Linked DNA regions of Homo sapiens: region 1 is linked to region 2. Evidence: fine-mapped expression QTL. A gene starts in region 2. The other region holds a variant in brackets. All regions are shown on one strand. Distances are from middle to middle.

Region 1 (2,911 bases), 26 kb after region 2:
CAACCTACAGAACAGACCTACACGTTTGCTTGTTTGTTTGCTCTTAGTATCATTATAAACTCATAGATTGAAACACAAGTTTCAGATTTGTATGTTTCAATCCATCGTAGGCATTATTCTTTTTGATACTTAAAATACCCCATCTTTGTGCAGCACAGTCCTCAAGTTGGTTTTTATGTCCTTTAAACACAACGTTAGTAGTGCTGACAACTTGCTTTTTGTATGACAAAATATTCTGAACCCATCTTATGCATTTCCTGCCACGAACCCAGAATCAGCCATTTCTCCAAGAAGCCCTTGTTCCTTTTAATAGGAAATACATTTAGAACCTTTGAAGCGGGTACTAGAGGTGCTCAGCATCACAGGGCTAGTTATTGTTCCCAGGCCTTTTTAGAAGTTAGAAATAGAGAATACTTTTTAAAGAGAAAAAAGCATCATGAGTTTATACAGATGTTTCCAAATCCAAGACTATACTGATAGTAGTTTTTTCTTCTTTGATTTTATATTCGTATCTCTTTTCTCTTATGTTGAAAATGTTGGTTTCCAGTGACATTAACATAATTAGATTTTCATTATATCCTACTACATGTAATAGTTTCAAACTAACACCATCAATAGTATTAAAGTTGACCCTTGAACAGTGCAGGGGTTAGGGATGTCAACCCCTCACGCAGTTGAAAATCCACATATAACTTTTGACTCCCCCAAAACTTAACTACCAATATTCTACTGTTGACCAAAGCCTTACCGAAAATATAAATAGTTGATTAACACATATTTTGTATGTTGCATATATCATATACTGTATTCTTATAATAAATTAAGCTAGAGAAAAGAAAATGTTATTAAGAAAACATAAGGAAGAGAAAATATATTTACTGCTCATTAAGTGGAGGTGGATCATCATAAAGTTCTTCATCCCTCTCATCTTCATATTGAGTAGGCTGAGGAAAAGGTGGAAGGTGGGGATTGGTCTTGCTATCTCCGGAGTGGCAGAGGCAGAAGAAAATCTGCATATATGTGGACCCATGCAGTTCAAGCCCATGATGTTCAGGGGTAACCGTACTTGTAATATGATTACAAAGACTGCTTCAGATTTCTTTAGAGTTAGTTCTCTTTGTCCTTAGAATATGTCCTTCTTAGGAATGTACAGTGAGGCAGTTATTAATTCCAGGAAAAACAAAAAGTTATGCAAGAAAGAAAATATAAACATAGAATGCCCTAA[G/AG]ATGTCACTGTGAGCAACATTTTTGACATCATAAAAATGGAAGCACTGAATATTTAATCAAAAATTGCAATGGGAGAATGAGAGAAGGAAGAGAACTAAAGCCTCATTTCACAAAAGGAAACCAGTATATAATGTCTAAAATGGAAGAAACCGATTTTTAAAAATGGTCTGAGTTTGATACTGACATGAAAGTTTTCTTTTTCTCCAGTCGAATTTAAATTGCCACTCATTTCCATCACACGGAATTTACACTCACTCCTCTTCTCTGCTGCCTCCCAGCCACCCTTTTTGACTCCAGCTCAGGAAATGGAGACATCTTTTTTTTTTTTTTTACTGAAGTGGGATTGTTATTTAAATGTTCTTTGGGTAATCCTGTTCCCTGGACAACCCTGACTTGGACAGTGTCCCCTAGGGCAGACCCTCCAATTCAGGTTGGATCTCTTGCCAGGCAGATGTGTGAGTTCTCTGTGGCAGTAGCTCAGGCAGGCTGAGGGAGGGGTGGCGATTAGCGCGCTCCTTCAGCTCCTTCACCGAGGAGGGGATTTGAAGTGAATCTTGGAGGAGGAGACACATTTCAGGTGAGCAAGGAAGTCAGAAGGATTCTGTAGACGCAGGGACAGCATAGGAAAGGCAAGGTGCCTGGAAGGGATTCTGCAATACATCCAGTATTCCACAATACACGTGTTACTCCTCAGGGACACTGTTCAGTCACTCTGGTTTTTCTGGCCGCCCAAGATGTAGGGCCATTTCCTAATCTATTTAATAATAGGCATATCATTTGGCGTCTGCTCAGCTCAGCCCACGGCCTTGGAACAAATGGACCCAATTAAAAGGCCATCATAGGGGAATTCAAGGGAAGAGGAAAAAGCCATTGATCAAATCAATGCTCAGTTGCCCTGGGGCTGGTTTGTGACCAGCTATGCCAGAGTCCTTCCCCCTATCCTCTCCCAGATGCTGTCCTAGACCTGAGGACCTTCCCGCCACCCTGGTCCCATCCTCCTCTCCTCCACCCCCACCCACTGACTAGCTGTGTGGCCTCACACTACATCTTCTCTAGATCTCAGGGTCACTGTCTACAAAACATTGTAGGCATCCTCTGCACCCCCTCTTCTTTTATCACCTCCTTCCATCCAATCCATAAAGGATCCCATTCACTCTTCCTTCAGAATACATCTGGCATTGGTCCACTTCTCCCCACCTCCATTGCTACCACCTGGTCCCAGTCCTCAGCCTGAGCTCTCACCTGGATTTCTGCAACAGCTCCTCCCTGTAGTCATTACTTCTGACCTTGCCCCACTGTGGTCTATTCTCAGCACAGCAGACAGACCAATCCTTCTAAAATGTAAGTCAGATTCTGTCTCCTCCTCAGACCTTGCATGGCTTCCCTTCTCATTCAATGTCCTACCAGATCTCCCCCGACCTCTGGCCTCCCCTCCTCCCCTCCAGGCCCACTCCACCCCAGCTGCAGGCCCTAGGGCTTTGCACTTACTGGTCCCTCTTTCTGGGAGCTCTTTTCCATTTGGCTAACTCCCACACCTCCTTCAAGTATTTGCCCAAATGCCTCCTTTTCACCCAACCACCCTATTTAAAATTGCAACCTTCATGTCCTCACAATCCCTCTTCCTGTTGTTTTTTGCCTCCTACAGAGCTTGTCACCTTTTAACACACCATATAATTTACATTCTA
Region 2 (2,911 bases):
GAGAAGAGTCGGCAGGCTCAGAAACGATTTCCAGGTTTCTGGACCATGGCCCCCTCCCTTTCTGATAAACTGACAAACAGTGAGGAAATGCAAAAAAAGATTGTAAGAATTTTAGAAGAGTCCCAGCCACACAGGGAGTCGAGGGGAGTGTAGAGTTCCACCCACCCAGCCAGTCACACACACACACATACACTGGAAGCTGGGCATTCTCACTCTCACGTACACACCCAGGGGCTTGGCACACACACAGATGCACCTTCTGGGGCACAACACTTTATAGTTTGCAAAGGGCCTTCTCATTTTTCATCTCATTGATACTGAGGGGTGGAGAGTTTCCCTGAATATGACCCATTCTAGAGCTGGCAAGAGATGAGAGTCCCAAATATCTTCAAGAGGCCGGGGCTGAACGCATGGGCTGGGCTGCCTGTTTTCTCTGTGTCGGTGTCAGCAGAGCTGAATGGCAATAGAAACTCTGGAAAAGTTTTAACCCAGCTCTCCCAGATAGGCCCTTTCACCCTTAACAAGTCACACCTGGACTCAGGGACTTTTTTTTTTTTTTTTTCCAAACCACTCTCACGGGGCCAGCTCCAGGCTGTCTTAAGATTTAGCTGGAATGGCAGAGGTGAGAGGCTTCCCAAGGGCCTCCTCTGTGGACAATTATTTGATCACTAATCCTTCCTACTCATTCCCTCAACCAAAGTTCCTGGGGAGCTCTGAGGGCAGGGCCCAGCCTCCTCCGTGAGGACCCCTCTCCAGATACTACACTTAGCAGTGTTCACATACGCAGGGAGAGACCACGGTTGCCCCCATTTTAGAGAGTAAGAAATTGAGGCCCAGAGAGGAAAAGTGCCCTTGCCAGCCATTTGCACTCCAACCAAGACCTTTGTGGCTCCGAATCCTGACTGAGCTATTCCACTTCTCCAGCAAGGCACGGCGCAGCACCAATGTGTCCATCTCCTCCCCGCCCCCACTGACCCCGTCCTGCGGTGCCTCGTCCCTCCATGCTGTGCAGTCTGCAGGCTCCAGGCATAGCCAGGCGGAGGAAGGAGGAGGACCCCAGTGCCTGCCCTACTGCCACTCTTGCCTGTGATGAGCCTCGGTGGCTGCAAGTGGACTGCAGTTACTCAGGAAGCTCCTAGGGGAGCTGAGGGGCGCAAGCCCTTCCAGGCATGGACCCAGAAAACTCACCCAAGAGTTAGCAAGTGCCTCGCTTGCAGTCCGTGAAGTGCTGGAGCAAATTCCCACTCGTGGAGCAGCCCCTGCTGCCAGTCAGTTCTGTGCCTGAAACTGTCGCGTGCAATGTTCTGGCAGAAGTCTGGAGAGGCAGCAGATGAGGAAACCGAGAGACCTGGGGAGAGGAAGTAACTTGCCACAGCACAGAGCTGGCAAGCAGCAGGGCCAGGACTCGAATCCCGAGAACCCTGAAGCTCCAGTCCTTTACACCAATGCTGACTCATCCTCTACCCAGCTGCCCGCAAGTCACTTCATTCACCCTCTGTTTGCTCACTCAAACAAGCAGCATCACCAATTTAGCCCAAGGGACTGTTGGGAGGATGGAGTGAGATAACATTTCAGGACAAGGGCCTGGCACAGGGAAGGCACGCATTGGGTGGCTGTTTTTTATCCTCCTCCCCATTATCACCCCAGCCCTCTCCTGGCTTCTCTGGAGTCTGGAGATGGCCCTGCTTCTGCTCATTGCTGCCGCAGGAAACCATTAACCTGGTTTTCTCAGCAGTGCCTGGAAGGTCCGTTAAGAGAGGCTGAGACCCCGAGATTAATGGCTCTGTTATCTGTGGCTCCAACCCTATGGATCCAGACAACTCCCACCCAGGGATGAGGATGGCACTGAGGGAGGAGAGAGACCCTCTCATACTGTTTTATACTCGGAAAAGGAAAGAGAAGCGAAACTAAAGGCAGGTAGCCCGGCGCCTAAAAACCAGACCTGAAACCAAGGAACCAGACCCGAAACCAAGGAACCAGACCCGAAACCAGGCCTGGGCCTGCCTGACCTAAGCCTGGTAGTTAAAATTCGACCCCTGACCTAGCAGCTGTTGTTATCTATAGATTCCAGAGATTGTATGGAAGGACATTGTGAAACCTCCCGTTCTGTTCTGTTTCACTCTGACCACCGGTGCTCGCAGTCCCTATCATGTACCCCCTGGCTTGTTCAGTTGATCACGACCCTCTCACGTGGACCCCCTTAGAGCTGTGAGCCCTTAAAAGGGACAGAAGTTGAGCACCTGACGAGCTCAGATTTTAAGATGCTAGCCTGCCGATGCTCCCAGCTGATTAAAGCCACTCCCTTCACTATCTCAGTGTCTGAAGGGTTTTGTCCGCGGCTCGTCCTGCTACAGCACCGAAGATGGAGGGTGATGCCGGGGGGGAAAGGCTGACCCCAGGCAATCCTCCCCTCCCCAGCGCCAATCCATCCTTGAGCTTGGGCTTGATGAGGAGAAGGCAGCCCGGGCGGCTCTACCTGGGCCCATGGTGGGCCCTCCCCGTCTGTAAGATGACTCTCCTGCTTCCTCCTCCTCCTCTTCTTTCTTACAGGTACTTATTGGCCACCTACTCTGTTCGGGTAATGTTCAACGCACTTGAGGTCAAAAAACAAAGTCCTGCCCTTGAGACACCTGTAGTCTAGCAGGGGAGATTAGTTTCTTTTGGTTAATGAGTAAATATATAGCAGGCCAGATAGTGATAAGAGCAGCGATATAGAAACATAAAGGAGGGTAAGGGGCGGAGAGCTAGGGGGCTGCAGCCTCGGACAGGTGGACAGGCCCCATCTAGATTTGCCAGATCACCCTCTCCCAGCCACCTAGCCTGGAGGAGACCCTCCCCCAGGCCCCAAGCCCCCACTCTGTGCCAGGCTCTGCCTCAGTGGATCTCAGCAGCAGGCTAGTGCGAAGACTGG

Alleles and levels. Positions count from the first base shown, and alleles are read on the strand shown. Sizes are in standard deviations (SD) of each study's normalised expression.
For the expression in tibial artery of the gene that starts at base 1,317 in region 2, G is the high allele of the variant in region 1 and AG is the other (small effect, 0.27 SD a copy in GTEx).

The links. PIP is the estimated chance that this variant, and not a neighbour inherited with it, causes the effect.
Region 1: its variant is fine-mapped to the expression of P2RY6 in tibial artery (GTEx, PIP above 0.99).

What each region holds. Positions count from the first base shown.
Region 1 is chr11:73,244,760-73,247,670 of GRCh38, reverse strand. No RefSeq gene overlaps it. Among named protein-coding and RNA genes, the nearest start is that of P2RY6, 26 kb to the left of the region's middle. The variant G/AG (reference allele first, on the strand shown) is at 1,226.
Region 2 is chr11:73,270,744-73,273,654 of GRCh38, reverse strand. P2RY6 (pyrimidinergic receptor P2Y6) reads right to left here and starts at 1,317. Exons shown (of 3, transcript NM_001277204.2): 1 at 1,189-1,317. RefSeq lists enhancers at 2,079-2,871, 2,872-2,911.